Linked DNA regions of Homo sapiens: regions 2 and 3 are each linked to region 1. Evidence: fine-mapped expression QTL. A gene starts in region 1. Each other region holds a variant in brackets. All regions are shown on one strand. Distances are from middle to middle. Region 1 holds the start of SAV1 (salvador family WW domain containing protein 1). Region 2 overlaps MAP4K5 (mitogen-activated protein kinase kinase kinase kinase 5). Region 3 has its middle 36 kb from the start of SAV1.

Evidence for each region. PIP is the estimated chance that this variant, and not a neighbour inherited with it, causes the effect.
Region 2: its variant is the best candidate, but not a certain one, in a credible set for the expression of SAV1 in regulatory T cells (Bossini-Castillo 2019, PIP 0.68).
Region 3: its variant is the best candidate, but not a certain one, in a credible set for the expression of SAV1 in thyroid (GTEx, PIP 0.86).

The regions. Positions count from the first base shown.
Region 1 is chr14:50,665,784-50,671,262 of GRCh38, reverse strand. SAV1 (salvador family WW domain containing protein 1) reads left to right here and starts at 2,957. Exons shown (of 5, transcript NM_021818.4): 1 at 2,957-3,389. The coding sequence starts at 3,296. RefSeq lists silencers at 2,720-3,289, 3,400-3,529 and an enhancer at 3,890-3,959.
Region 2 is chr14:50,495,680-50,501,158 of GRCh38, reverse strand. The region is part of intron 3 of MAP4K5 (mitogen-activated protein kinase kinase kinase kinase 5); the gene reads left to right. Among named protein-coding and RNA genes, the nearest start is that of MAP4K5, 34 kb to the left of the region's middle. The variant C/T (reference allele first, on the strand shown) is at 2,432.
Region 3 is chr14:50,701,954-50,707,432 of GRCh38, reverse strand. It overlaps the pseudogene ZFP64P1. Among named protein-coding and RNA genes, the nearest start is that of SAV1, 36 kb to the right of the region's middle. The variant C/T (reference allele first, on the strand shown) is at 2,229.

The DNA of each region.
Region 1 (5,479 bases):
CTAGAAAACAAACATGAATTCAAAGCTTTTAGATTTAAGGATTCAAATTCAAAGTTCACATATTTGTTGTGCATTGCTATAGCTAATGCTGCCTGCACATTGTTGATTCTGGAATGTACCCTCCTTGATAAAAAGGCAAATTAGTTGTCTTAAATAGAGCACCTAATTAAGGCTTTCTCTCTGCTATAATCCACAGAAATTAAATAGCATTGTAAAAGGGAGTACTCTCTAAGGAACACAGACGGCTTTCAAAACAACTGTTAGAAACAGTCTGGACTCACATTAGTGGGATTCTGAATGTTCCGTAGCAGTAAAGAGCCCCAAACGGAAATTGAGGCTGGCCTGGTGGCTCACGCCTACAATTGCAGCACTTTGGGAGGCCGAGGCGGGCAGATCACTTGAGGCCAGGAGTTCGGGACCAGCCTGGCCAACATGATGAAATCCAGTCTCTACTAAAAATACAAAAAATAGCCAGGTGTGGTGGCGGGCGCTTGTAATCCTAGCTAGTCAGGAGGCCAAGGTAGGAGGATCGCTTGAACCTGAGAGGCAGCAGTTGCAGTGAGCTGAGATAGTGCTACTGCACTCCTGCCTGAGGGATAGAGCAAGACTCTGCCTCAGGGGGGAAAAAAAGGGAATTGAAAACTCCAGTTCTGATGCTATTCTGTCATTAACCAGGAATGTAATCTGAGACAAAACACTTAATTTTTCTCGTTCCTTTTTGATGTTGATGAGGTGAGCCTAGGCAATCTCAGAATTCTTTTTCAACTATAAAATTCTAGGATTCTTTCCTCCGCACATGTGAAAGGTGTCCCCGTACTTCAGGCTCTGGGAAAACTCCAGGTGTGAAGAGTTGCCTTTATTAACAAGATGCTAATATCCTTTTGTCCTTCTCTGAGGTAAGCCTTAGGCAGAAACCTGGCACTTCTTTGGCTCCCCCTTCCTCCTTCAGCTCCCGCCTTCATACCCTGATGTGTAACAAAACCCCATTGTGCTCTCACTTAAGTTTCATCACTCTTTCTTCTCCCTGCACACTATCAACGCTTTAGGACTCGTCCTTATTTCTGAACCACAGGAACAAGTAACTGTTTTTCTAATGTTTCTCTCAGAGTACACTCTGCTTCTAGTGAGTTCCAATTCTGTTTATTAAGATTTTCATACCCATGGCAGTGATTGATACTCCCACACTCCATATTCAATGTCAGCAAATTTGGTTGGCTTTCTTTAAAATATGTCTAAAATATGTCCACTTACCTCTCCACCTATTATTGCCTGGGTCCAAGCCAGCAATAACTTCTGACTGATCTCCCTTTTGCCCTTAGCTCCATTGTCTACTCTCCACACAGCATCCAAAGCAGTCCTATGAAAACATTAACTCAGATCATGTCACTCCTCTGCTCAAAGTAACATTCCTTACAATGGCCTACAAAGCCCTAGGTGCCGTGGCTATTGTTACTCTCTAACTGCATTCCCCATTCGTCTCCCCGTCTTTTCCAGTACATAAACCCTCTTACTGTTCCTCCAATCTGCCAGGAACATGGCCACTTGCAGCGACTTTGCACTTGCTGTTCTTTCTGCCTGGAATATTGTTCCTCCAGTTAGCTGCATGGCCAATTTCCTCACTCTGTCACTTAACTCCAATGTCACCTCCTCATGAGCCTTCTCTGGTCCCTCTATTACCCTCTCAAAAATTGTGAGTCCTCTCTTATTTTCACTTCATCACTTATCACTATCTAACATAGTATGTTTTGCTTATTTTTTGTCATTTTTTTCTCTTTCCCATGACAGTAGGGATTTTTGTCTGTTTTGCTTATTGCTCTATCACAAACGACTAGCGCAGTGGGTAATGAGTATTTCCTGGTTAATGAATGAATTGTGGGAGATCTGCACCAAGGGAACATATGGAGACAGACACTAGATCAAATGTCTCCTTTGTTTGCTCATGGTAAAACATTTGACCATCTTCTTAATCTTACGTGGTAAAAAATTCCATGTCTTTTGTTAATTGTGATATATGTCTTAGATCTCTTGTGAGATGTTTTAGATCTCAGGGAAAGCATTCCTCATTATTAAAGCATTAATTTGGTCACTAGGGGATGAATCCAATCTTATTTTCCAAATGTTATCCTGTACATTTGGCAGTCTTGCTAAGTTATATAGAAGGAAGTAGAGTCTATTATTTTAGATAGAAAATTCCCGGTCCCGACTCGCAGTGGTCAAAGTCTTCAAAATTCTAAGATCATAACACATAACGTCAGGAGGAAATATGTGGCTATTAATCATACTAATGATAGTGATGATGCAATAAAATAATTGTAATATGCTAACACCAATTGTATCTTAAAAAGAGGTACTGGAAATTCCATCTTGCATTCTTCCGTTTTTTCCTGTTATAGAAAAACGCACTCCCTGATACTCAGTAGAGGATCAACTTATTTCTAGTTAATCAGCATGAACGTTTCCAGCAGAATAGATGCTTTGGTGTAGCACTTGCCTGGGAGTCATGGTTAGCATTCCGCATTTTTTAGAGAGCTGAATTCAGCAGCCTAGGAAACATTAGGAAGAACACCTTCAAACAGGGAACAACGTCTTGGGGGGAAAGAGAGTCACTGCCTCCGCTAGGGATCCCGAGGGGGTACAAAAGCAACAACAATAAAAACTCGTGGAGAGTAGGTTCCACGACATGCGCATGCGACGAACTCCCGCACTCAGCGGGGCAGGTTTCGTCCTTCATCTTCTCAGTCGGCAGGACCTGCTTCTCGCTGAGGATGAGTGAGGACAGCCGCAGCTCGGCGGGGACGGCCCGGTAGCCTAGAGCGCCGGCACCCGAGTCCCGCCGCCGGAGCCGCGCCTGGAGCCGCGGTGGGGGAGGGGCAGCGGCGGCCCGCGCTGCGTCGAGCTTCCCAGAATTCCCAGCGGCCGCGGGGAAAGTTTACGGGATGTAGGCGGCGGCGGCGGTAGTGGTAGCGGTTATTCGGCGGCCCGCGGCGGACCATGGCCCTGGCCCTGGCCCGGCGTCGCTGGGCTTTCCTCACGGCGTCCCCGAGCAGCGTCGCAGAGCGGGCCGACTTCCGGGAAGGAACTGACCAGCGACTGAGCGGCGGCCGGCGCGCTTAGCGCCCTGAACATGCGGCAGTCCCTGCGGGCGACCCCGGGCTCCGGACAGGCGGCGGCGGAGGCGGCGGCTCGGGAGGGAAGGAGGCGGCGGCGCCGGCGGAGGTGGCGGCGGAGACGGCCGGCGCCCGGCGCGGAGCCCTAGGGAGGCAGTTCAGCGCGGCCTCGGGCCTCGTCGAGAAGGATGCTGTCCCGAAAGAAAACCAAAAACGAAGTGTCCAAGCCGGCCGAGGTGCAGGGGAAGTACGTGAAGAAGGAGACGTCGCCTCTGCTTCGGAGTGAGTGTCAGGCGGGGCGTGCCCACACCTGGCCCAGGCGGCCAGGTGCTCCGGGGACCCTGGCGGGGGCGCCGGCGGGTCTCCAGGGCTTCTCCTTCGTCCTTGGTCGCGTGAAATACTGGTTTTGAGATTTTCTTGTGTCTGAAGTGGTATTCGTTGATTGAAAGCCCATAAGAGTAAGAAACTTGGGTTAGTCCCCCCCGCGCCTAACCCCCCCAAGAGCACCCCCTAAAAATAACAGACTTCCTCGCCCCACCAGGCAGAGTTGTTGGTTTTGATTACTGGAAGAGAGAGTAGGAAACATTTAAATTGCTTATCACCTAATGCTATAGGAGTAAAAGTAATTAGACAGGGACACTTTTTACTCTTTTAGATGCGTCGAGATGTGCGTCATGTTTGCAAACATTGCGGGTGTCTCTCGACTGTGCTGCAAGTTGTGCGAACTCTGGGGCAGAATTCCTTAGTCCTGCTGCCGGATGCAGACTTGAGAAGGTGAAAAGCATACCGTCGTTCTTGTAGCCGCCACCCAAAGCCTCATCACTCTTACACAGCAGAGCAGAGAGCCAAAAGCCTTTGTATTTGGCTATATTCGTGAGATTCCAAGAAGGCAACTCAAAATAATTTCTATCGTATTAGAGAACCCCCCCCTCGAAAAGTTTTTTTTTTTAATAGGGTAGATCCCACTCCCAATCCCCACCTCCGGTCCCCCGCTGCTTTTCTTCTTAATGTAAGTATTTGATTTTTGAGTTGAATCTCTTGAATTTTTAATTCTTGTGTGTTCAGGACATTTGTGAGGCATGGAGCTGGTATTTTGGTGCTCTTACTGCGCCCTGGGCCCTTTGCTTAAGTTTCCTTCTTGGAAGCTGGTAGTAACCTTGTGACTTAAGTATTACCTCATATTGTAATTGGGAAAGTTAGGTTTCTAGTATTTGCCCAAGATCACACAGATGGGAGAGCATGTTTTTCCATCATAACCACATTGTCAGCCTTCCAGATTTATGGTGGTACTTGCAATACTTTCAACAAAATATATGTCAGTTGAGTACATCAGTAACTCGAAACTTGATTTTTAAGTTGTTTTTTTTTTTTTTTAACAACTTGATTTTCAGTCACACATGCAGTTAGGTTTCTGGCTGTTTTTAAGTGATAGCTTGCTGTTTGCTGCAAATAAAGTTTATCAGACATTACTTGAAATCGTGAATTATGTTTGTCACACTTTTTATTATACTTTAAGTTCTGGGGTACATGTGTAGAACGTGCAGTTTTGTTAATGTTTGTCACAGTTAAGCAAATAACTTTTGATCTACTTTGTTTTGTTGTCGTTACATCAAGTGTTGAGCCTTATTTATTCAGATATTTGTTTCTGTCCAGTGTTAGTTTCTGAAGCTTATTAATATGAGTGTCTCCAATATTGTTTACTTGATGAATAATAAGAGGGTCTGCATATTCAGGTTTTTGTCTTGTTTTAAAGGTATTTGCTTTCTAACTGGGAATGTCTTAAGCTGTTTTCAAGTTTCGTGTTTAAAAGTACTGTATCCTAAAAGCTGTTGTTCTATTATCTACTATTTTGAATTATAATTACATAGTTTCAGGCTTGGTTTTTTGAGCCACTTCTACATTTGTGTGCTTCTTTGAAATGAGAGCTTTTTATTTTCAATTTTCATACATAAATTTTTGGCTTTCTAGCTTTTGATTACTGTGCTAGTGCTAGGTAATTCCAAGAGAAGAAAGAGCTACTAATTTTTTAATTTTTAAAGGAATCCACTTTTACATATTTGGGAGTAGCATTAAGTTCTATTTTTGAAATTGTGTTTGCTTCAAGAAGGATTTTTGGCAGTTTCTAAAATGAAGTGAGAACAACAAAATAAACTACTTAACTAGAAACTATCAATTTGTTATATTATTTCCTATTTTTATACATTAATTCATGAGCATTTCATTAATGTGTAGTTCATAGATAAGATTATTGATATTTTATCATATTATGTATGGTAGTATGCAGAATACATTTTATTCTAGCTGAGCTTTTACGCATAGTCCATTAATGCAAGTTATATAAATTCATTTGATTGGGAAAATATTAATCTTCC
Region 2 (5,479 bases), 170 kb after region 1:
AGAAACTTTCTGATTGCACTGGGGTATGAGTATGTATTACTATGTGTACCTTCTTTTAAGAAATATAATATTTATAATTTATAAATGCCATGACCAATTATTTAGACTTAGTTTTATATTTAGTAGATTTACTACCCACCATTGGTCTTTTTATGCCATTTCCTTTCCATTCTCACCTACTTAGTATCAACTATCAATAGGCTAAGTCATATTATCAAAAAGATTTTCCCGTATTAGGAATATTATAATTTAAATCCATAAATTGATTATTCTTCTCAAACCTGCTTTTCTTCTGCATTTTGCTAAGCAGTTAACCCATCCACAAATGTAGGCATTAACCTCGATTTCTCTCTTTTATTTGTGCTCAAGAATCAGTCTGTCAGCAAGTTCCCTCAGCTCTACCTCCAGAACACATCCTGAATCCATCTACTTGTCTTTGTTACCCATCTCCACCCTTCTAGTGCCTGTTGCCTTGCCCACACCTCCCATTCCCCACCATCTATTTTCCAGAAAGCCTCTGGAGTGAACTTTTAAAAACATAAATCATATCATCACTTCTGCTTAACACTTCCCTGAAGCTTTCATATCAACTTAGAAAAATACTCAGATTTTTAGCCTTGTTTATAAAACCCTACATGATCTGTTCTATCCACCTCTCTGAGCTCATCGCATATGTTTCTGCCTACTCTACTATGCCTCTGTTTTCTTTTTATTTAAACAGTCCAAGATTAAAGCAATTCTTCCCTTTTGCCTGAGGTAACTGTTTTTCAAGATCTTTGCTCTGAAGGCTCCTGGTCATTCAGACCTCAGCTTAAATAAATATCATATCCTCGGAGAGGCCAATGCCCTTGTTATTTTAGTTCGCTGCATAGGACACGTGAGTGCCTGATACTTTTCTTGTTTGTTTATATGTATACGTGTATATATTGTGTTTGTCTCTCTCCTAGAATGTAAGATCAATGAGAATAGCGATTATCTATCCTCACTGCTATATTTCACCACTTGGGACAGTGTAAGCATGTAACGGACACTGCAATAAATATTCCTCCTATAAAAGAATATTACAGATGTCTTTCTGTTGCCTTTGAATGAGAATGACGATTTGACTAGGTATAAAATGATTGCATCACACGTTCTTCTCCCTCTACCCTCAAAAAACTCTATAGACATTTTTTTCCCTTGAATATTGTTGGAAAGAAATGTAAGGCCTAACTGATATTTTTCCCCTGGTAGATAACTTGCTGTTACTACCTGATTGTAGCAAAAGCTGGCATTTCTTTCTTTGTCTTCAAAATTAGTAATCTCAACAGAATATAACTTGGTCTCAATAATTTTCTACAGATTTTTCTCCCTGAGACACAATGAGCTGCTTTTTTCATCTGCAGTTTTGATTTTTTCTTTATTTCAAGAAACTTTGTTTTAAGATTCTTGAATTTATTTCATTACTTTGGAAAGTAATGAATTTTTAAAGTCTTCCATATCAGTGACTTTTTTTTTTTTTTAAACAGGGTCTCTTTCTGTTGCCCAGGCTGGAGTGCAGTGGCACAATCTGGGCTCACTGCAACCTTTGCCAACCGGGTTCAAGTGATTCTCGTGCCTCAGCCTCCTGAGTAGCTGGAATTACAGGCATGTGCCACCACACCCAGCTAATTTTTGTATTTTTAGTAGAGACAGAGTTTCGCCATGTTGTCCAGGTTGGTCTTGGACTCCTGGCCTCAAGTGATCTGCCCGTCTAGGCCTCCCAAAGTGCTGGGATTACAGATGTGAACCACCATGCCTGGCCCCCAATACTGCTTCTATTCCTTGTTGGTTCCAATGTTTTTATTAGTTCTATATAAGTATTATTTTTACACAGCTTTCCCCCCTTAACTCTACCAGCATTCTTTCTGTTTCATTTTGTTGCCTTAATTTTCCTGTACTCTTTTTTCCCCCTTTCATATCCCTGAGAGTTTGAAGCACTGTTGTCTTAAATTTTCTTTCAAAACAAATTCTTCGTATCTTCAGCATCCTGTATTTGTCTTTTTTTTTTTGCTGTGGAATTTTTGTGGAAAATCAGTGGACTTTTAGCATTGTCAGTAAAGCCAAAGTAGATGGTATTTTTCACATTTTTGGAACAGACTTAAGGGTATCTTTAGGTTAAAAATATGATGGTATGCTAATGAATTTTCCCAACATTCAGTTCAGATACTTCAAATAATTTTGGAGACTGCTGTATTTCAAAAATGAATTCTCAACTGTATTTAGCAGCTTTCAAAAACTTGCACTAAAGCCAGCATAATACAAAAGTGCTTTCTTGTATTGATTTAACAGATGAACTGGTTTAAAATTGTATTTAGACATGAAAAGATAATTATTTGCCAGTGTGACTTAGAAAAAAACTTATGTCTGGTAATACATAAACAAAAATTTTTTTAAGTAAATGAAATTCCAG[C/T]TGTAAACTTAACATGCTTTTCTCCATGGTGAAAAATAGGATATTAAAGTTTATAGTAATTTTAGAGTCCTAAATTGTATTTACTGACTTGCCCCTGGCAATTTAATTTTATAATGCTATATTCAAAATTTTGCTGAAACAGATTGCTTTTGAAGGTCTTCCTAATAGTCAAAAAAATGCTACAGTAAGCCTTAGAGTTGAAAATAGGTTAGCACAGAAAATCGCGTTTATTAATTAGCCACAAAAATATTTGTAAAAGAAAATGAAGTCAGCATTCCTTCCTATGTTTGTATGTTCTTGTTGCTCTTTGTATATATAGGCAAAATGATTATTTTCAGGAATGATTTAACCATTTCTATCTCATTTTTATAGTAGATACTTACTAAAGTCACCACCTTACAAATGGTAACATTAAATAGAGTTTGACTTACCAGTGATTAGCATTGAAAATAATACCACCAGTGATACCATTGTGAGTTTTAGTTGCATTTTTCATCTCTTTGATTAGACATCCAGAGTGCCCTATAAGCCCAGGCAGATACTGTGATGGTTCATGCCACCATGTTTTCCTGTCTTCTGTCTGAATTTCAGCCTACCATCTAACTCATTTTACAGATGCTCAGTTTGCCCAACAAGTCTGTAGCTATTGGTGGCCAACAGCCAGAGCAGGAACAAAGTTTGTGGGAAAACTTACCATCAGAATCCTACTTTCCCTTCCCTCTCTCCTCCTTCCATTACCCCTCTTTTATGGCAAAACTACAAAATAATATTTTAAGCTTATGAAAATTACAGTTTATTTAAATATTTTCGGCCTTGCTTACAGGGATGTAATTTAATACATCACTACCCAGGATGATTAATGCAATACCCTTTTGGTTTGTTCCCTTGCTTGTCTTTTAAAACGGTAAATCGGAAATACTTATAAAATAGTTTAGTATTTTTTAATAAAATAAGTTAAATGTGTTTCTTTAGACAGTTTTTGAAATAAATAGGAATCTTTAAATATCTTTGAATAGATGTTTAAAGCTTTCCTTGGACTTGCAGGGAATACTTTAACTTGTTTCCTGAAAGTATAAGCAGAGAAGGTAGTGTAAGTGTTAAAAAGTCAGGAACTATACGGAGGTTTAAACCAGCCATTAGTTTGCCTTGTTCTTGAAAGAACTTGGCAAAGTTCTTGAAAGAAATCCCAGGGTAGGCTGTTTGGCCAAATAGGACAAGTGTCATCTATTCAGGTTACGTGGTATGTTCTTTTCAGACTTTCTATTCAAAAACCTAACAATCTTGATTTTTAAAAATATTCTGTAAAGTAAAATATTTGTATCCTGTCTTCACTGTTTGGACAGTTCAAGTCTGAATTAATGGAAAATGTTAATTTGAAGGCACAAATACATGCCCCAAATGTCATTTTATTGGTTTTAAATAATAGATACAGAAAATGAATAAAGGTTAGTGTTGTTTACTAATGTCTTCTGTTTAACATTGTACATTCATTATGCTCAATGGAAAAAAACCATATTTACTTATTATGAACCAAAACAACCATATTCACAAGATTGCCACCATTGTGTCACTGTATTTTTCATAGTTATTTAAAAATTAGCTGATTGAATATTTAGCATTGGATTGATTTTCTGAAAAAGTACTGCTAATTTATTCACTGTATAATGAACTACCGCTAAAATTAGTTTTCGTTTTGATAACTATCTTTAACATTATTTCATAAACTTCAGAAATGTATCTAGTACTTACTAATACAGAAAACTTTTGCCATTGCAAATATTAATTAAGAGATCTAATTTTTACATTGTAATTTTGCTCTAAATGATATACAAATTTTTAGGTTACTGCATATTTATTTTAAATACTTGTTTTAAAAGTTTTTATTTTTATTTTTATTTTTATTTTTATTTTTTTGGTCTGGGAGCGGTGGTTCACACCTGTTGTAGTCTCAGCACTTTGGGAGGCTGAGGTGGGAGGATCTTTTGAGCCCAGGAGTTCAAGACCAGCCTGGGCAACATGATAAGACCCAGTCTTTACAAAAATTTTTAAAAATTAGCAGAGCACGGCAGCCTGCTTCTGTAGTCCCAGCTACTCAGGACACTGAGGCAGGAGGATCACTTGAGCCCAGGAGGTTGAGGCTTCAATGAACCATGTTCACATCACTGCGTTGCACCATGGGCAACAGAATGAAATCCTGTCCCAAAAAAGAAAGAAAGAAATATATATATAATAATATATGTGTGTGTGTATATATATATTCATTTAAACATCCAGCTGTAGTGAAATGATTAAATTAGGCTATGCTCACATCATTTTAATATTTTTAAAATTTCAGTAAAAAACACATAAACTTTACCATCTTAACCATTTTTGTTTTTTTGCTTTTTGTTTTGTTTTTGTTGAGTTGGAGTCTTGCTCTTGGCACCCCGGGTGGAGTGCAATGGCACAATCTTGGCTCACTGCAACCTCCACCTCCCGGGATCAAGCCATTCTCCTGCCTCAGCCTCCCGAGTACCTGGGATTACAGGCTCCCACCACGACACCCGACTAATTTTTTATGTTTTTGGTAGAGACAGGGTTTCACCATGTTGGCCAGGCTGGTCTTGAACTCCTGACCTCAGATGATCCACCTGCCTCGGCCTCCAAAAGTGCTGGGATTACAGATGTGAGCCACCATGCCCAGCTGTCTTTACCATTTTTAAGTGCATCTTTTAGTAGTTTTAACTATATTTGCGTTGTTGTGAAATAGTTGTCTAGAATTTTTCATCTTGCAAAACTAAAACTCTATATTCATTAAACAACAACAACTCTTTGCTGCCTCCCCACAGCCACTAGTAACCACCATTCTACTGTTGGTATCTATGAATTTGGCTCCTTTAGATACTTTATATAAGTGGAATCATACAGTATTTGTCCTTTTCTGACTAGGCTGTTTCACTTAGCATAATGTTCTCAAGGTTCATCTATGTTATAGCATATGACAGGATTTCCTTCCTTTTTAAGTCTGCATGGTTTTCATATACTACAGTTTTATTCATTCATCTGTCA
Region 3 (5,479 bases), 36 kb before region 1:
AAAAAAAAAAAGGTACAAAATATGATTTCAGATTCTACATTTCAACTTACCTCTAAGAAACTACTACTTGTTTGATTTGGTTTAGTATCACTGAAGACTATCTATATCAAAAAAGATTAAAATACTTTTCCCTTTTCTAACTACAGTACTTGCCTCTGTGAGATCAGGTTTTTTTCCATATACTTCAACCAAAATGATACATGATAAAACAGAACAAATGCAGAAACAAATGGGATAATTCAGCTACTCTCTATTAAGCCAGACATTTAAGAGATTTCTTCACAGCTCTTCTCAAATACTTTGTTTTGGAATATATGTTTATTTCTCATGAAAGTATGTTATGGTGTTAAACATGAAATAGGCTTATTTTCAGTATTTTAAAATATATAAATACTTTAAAGTTTTTCTCTTCTAACATGATAAATGTTGCTAGATATAATTCACATAAGCAAAATCTCTGAGGTCCTCAATAGTTTATAAGAGTACAAAGTAATCCTAAGACCAAAAATTTTGAGAACCATTACTATATATTCACATATAATTACATATACAATTACTATATATATGATATATAGTATATATACAGACAAATCAGATCTTTGGTCAACCTAGTATTAGTTGATCCATTTTTCACCAAAAATTACCTTTTTGTAGTACCTTAAACCATTGTTTGAAATATAAATCCCACTCATTTTTCAGCAGCTAGAGAAACAGATACATTATGTACAGAGAAACAAAAATAAAGATGACAGATTTTTCATCAGAAAGAATGCAAGAAAATATTGCATCTATACAGTACTGAAGGAAATGAAACTAGCCTCAAATTCTTTTTTTTTTTTTTTTTTGAGACGGAGTCTCGCTCTGTCGCCCAGGCTGGAGTGCAGTGGCGGGATCTCGGCTCACTGCAAGCTCCGCCTCCCGGGTTCACGCCATTCTCCTGCCTCAGCCTCCCAAGTAGCTGGGACTACAGGCGCCCGCCACCACGCCCAGCTAATTTTTTGTATCTTTAGTAGAGACGGGGTTTCACCGTTTTAGCCGGGATGGTCTCGATCTCCTGACCTCGTGATCCGCCCGCCTTGGCCTCCCAAAGTGCTGGGATTACAGGCGTGAGCCACAGCGCCCGGCCGCCTCAAATTCTTTACCCAACGAAGATATCTTCAAAAAATGAAGGTGAAATAGGAACTTTCAGACATAAGCTGAAATATTACATTGCTAGTAGACCTCCACTGTAAGTGTTTAAAAAATTACAGAGTGATACCAATTAGAAATGTGAATCTAAAGAAACATCCATACACACACTCACACTCACACACACACTCACACACACACTCACAAGAAATGCCAACTACGTTGGCAAATGTATTAGTTTTCTCTTGGTGCTGCAACAAATTACCAAGAATTTAGTCATTTAAAAATACAGATTTATTATTTTATAGTACTACAGGCTCGAAGTTTAACATTTCATTGAGAAACATACGTGCGCGCACACACACACACACACACACACACACACCCAAGATGTCAGCAAGGTACATTCGTTTCTACTTCTTTGTCTTTTCTAGCTTCTAGAGGTCACTTACACTTTTTGGCTCATGGCCTCCTTTTTCCATCTTTATAAGTCAACAACATTATATTTCTGACCCTTTTTCCATAATGACCTCTCCCTCTGATTAGAGCTGGGAAAGTTTCTCTGCTGTTAAAAACATGCTGGAAAGATGCTCTGAGGACCCCTCAGAGACTGTTTTCGGTGTACGCGGGCACCCAAGTCCCCGGCCTCCTTGGCACTGGGCTTCGGCTGCGCACCTGGAAGGTGGCTCCCTGCCCTGGGGTTAGGTTTCAAATGCGTTGTCCAGGGAAATCCTCACCAAGGAGCGGACCTTCGAGTGAAGGCCCGAAGGATGGGAAGGAGCGAGTTGTGCAGCTTCAGAACTGGATAATGATATTCCAAAAGCAACCTGCCTCTCCACTGAAAGCAGTGACTGAAAGCAGAAGGCCCCTGTCATCACTCTTCCCTCAGAGTCAAGGGAAGAAACAGCCGCCCTTGGAGAGAGGACATTCGACTGTTGCTACCCAGGTTGCCACTTCAAAACTCTCCATGGCATGAAAGACTTGGACCGCTATCTCAGAATCCACAACGGGTGACGAACCGCTCAAGTGTGAGTTCTGTGACAAGTGCTTCAGCGGAAGGACAACCTGACCATGCACATGTGATGCCGCACGAGTGTTAC[C/T]TGTGTGACTATGCTGCCGTGGACAGCAGGAGCCTCAAGAAGCACCTACGGATCCACTCGGACGAGCAGCCATACAAATGCCAGCTCTGCCCCTATGTCAGCCGCAACTCCAGCCAGCTCACCGTCCACCTGCGATCCCACACTGGGGATATCTCCTTCCAGTGCTGGCTCTGTAGCGCCAAGTTCAAAATCAGCTCAGACTTGAAAAGGCACATGATCGTGCACTGGGGGAGAAGCCTTTCGAGTGCGAGTTCTGCAGCGACGTCCGCTGCACCATGAAGGCGAATCTCAAATCGCACATCCGCATCAAGCACACCTTCAAGTGTCTGCACTGTGCCTTCCAGGGCCAGGATGGGCTGACTTCCTGGAGCATAGCTGGCTGCACCAGGCCGACCACCCAGAGAAGTGTCCTGAGTGCAACTCCTGCTCCAGCGCAGCCGCCCTGTGCATACACAGCGGAGTCCACTGTAAGGACTGAAACTTCAAGTGTGACTTCTGCAGCTCCGACGCGAAGTGGCCCAGCAGCCTGGCCAAGCGCATCGACAGGGTGCACAAGGATGAGGCCAAGACAGAGAACTGGGCCTCTCCGGGCAAGGAAGGGCTCACAGAGCAGCTCCCGACACGTGGCCAAGATCGTGAGGCAGAGGGCCTTTCGCTGTGAGACCTGCGGCGCCGCCTTTGTCAGGGATGACTCTGAGATGCCACAAGCAGCAGCACAGTGATCAGAGTGAGAACAAGGACTCAGACTTGGTCGCCTTCCCACCTGCAAGCTGTGCCTCGGGACAGCTCAGCACCATGGTCTCCGTGGGGCAGCTCAAGCCTCCCCTGGAGCCCAGCCAAGACCTCTAGCTCAGAGGAAAAGGATCCTCAGCTGTCAAGATTTCTGACAAATGCTGTTGCCCACCCCTCCAAAAGATGAAGCCAGTGAGACAGGCTTTGGGCACCACTTCCAGGGCTGGCTGCTCCAATTTCACAGGCCTCCAGAGGCGATGGCTGAGATGACAATGATAAAAGCAAAGCAGTACTATGGAGACACTTCTTGCATTTGTGTCTTCCCTCCCAGGACAATCTGAGCAAGTCAACTTAGTCATTCAAACGTAGGGTCTGCTGAGCCCTGCTCTATCCAATGCGGATAGCTTCTATGTAACAGATTCCAATTTTTAAACTGATCCATCTCTGATGGAATTATTAAACTAGTTAGATGATATAGAAAACTAAAACTAATCTCTATAGTGGGACAGGTTAAAGTGAAGAAGGTGTACATGAAGAGTCTGGGATTGCTGGAAAACTTCTATTTCATAACCTGGATGATCGTTCTAAGAGTGTTTGCCTTATATGTTTGTGTGGTTTCTTCTACCTGTTGTCTTGCAATAAAAAGGCAGACTCATAGGTTAAAACAAAATCAAAAACAAAAAAACTCATGTGATTAGACTGGACCCACCTGGACAACCTAGGCTTCATCTAAATATCCATCTAAGTTTCCTTAACCTGAATCATGTCTGCAAAATCCCTTTTGTCAACTGAAATAACATACTCACAACTTCTAAAGATTCAGACATGGAAATCTTTGTGTGATATTTAATTTGCCTACCACAGATGTAGAAGAATTGAACATTGACAACAAACTTGTTATAAAACATTCCACTCAACAGCAGCAGCAGAATACACATTCTTTTTAAGAACACATGGAAAATTAACAAAGATCAGCCACGTTCGGGGGTATAAAACAAGTTTCAATACATTTTAAAGGATCCTAGGTGCTGGAGGTGGCCAAGATGGTTGACTAGAAGCAGGTAATATACGTAGCTCTCATGGAGAGGAACAGAAAGAGCAAGTAAATACAGCACCTTCAACTTAAACATCTAGTTACTCACATTGGGACTAATCAAGGAAGCAACTTGACCCATGGAGGATGGAGAAAAGTAAGGCAGGATGATGGCCCACCCAGGAGCAACATGGAGCCAAGGGAACCTCCCCCGACCCTGGGTAGTGGCACATGAATGTACAACCCCAGGAACCCATGCTTCTCCCATGGATCTTTGCAATCCTTGGGTCAGGAGATCTCCTTGTGAACCCACTCCACCAGGGCCTTCTGACTGACACACACAGCTACATGGAGTCTCAACAGAACAGCCACTCAGGCACATGTGGAGACCCAGGAAAGCCTTGATACTCGGACTCTCCAGACTTCCCAGCAAAAGTAGTTGCAACTCCAGCAAAGCGGGAGGTTTGACCTCTGTACATATCCTTAGGAAAAAGGCTGAATCCAGGGGGCTGAGCAGTGACAATCTGCAGGCCCCACTTCCACAAACCTCACAAGATGAAGACCCACTGGCTTAGAACTCCAGACAGCCACTGGTAGCAGCATTGCACCTCCCTGGGATAAAACTCCAGCAGGGAAGGGTGGGCTGCCATCTTTGCTGTTTGGGCAACTTAGCCGTTCCAGCCTCCAAGCTTTGGAGAGTCTAAGCTGACCAGGGGCGGAAGGGATGCCCCAGCACAGCTGCTTTATAAAACGTGGTCAGACTGCTCTTTTAAGCAGGTCCCCAATCCCTCCTCACTGGGCAGGATCACCAGAGCCTCCAGCCACCTGCGCCCATGTTCTCCAGCCAACAGAGATTTGGAGCCTCCCTGGGATGGAGCTCCCAGCGGGAGGGGTGGGCTGCTATCTTTGCTGTTTGGGTGATAGTATTTCTAGTCTTTAGGCTTTGGAGAGTCCAAGTCAACCTCTGACCAGGCAGAAGCAGTACCCCGGCACAGTACAGCTGCCCTGTGAAACATGGCCAGACTGCTTTTTTAAGCCGGTCCCCAATTCTGTTCCTCCTCACTGGGCAGGAATTCTCAACTGGGGCCTCCAGCCACCCCCACCAGTGCTGTCTGGCAAACACAGATTTGAAAACTTCCTGGGACAGAAATCCCAGAGGGAAGGGTGGGCCACCATCTTTACTGTTTGGGTAACTTAGCTATTCTAGCCTTTGGACTTTGGAGAGTCCAAGATGACCAGGGGCTGAAGTGGATCCCCAGCACAGCACAGCTGCCCTACCAAAACACAGCCAGACTGCTTTTTCAAGCAGGTCCCTGATCCTACTCCTGATCACCAGGAAGGGTCTGAAGCTATCCCCACGAGTGTTCTTCAGCTGAGAGAAGTTTCAAGCCTCCCCAGGCTGGAGCTCCCAGATGGAGGTGCAGGCCATCATCTTCGCTGTTTGGGTCACTTAGCTATTCTGGCCTTTGAGCTTTGGAGTGTCCGG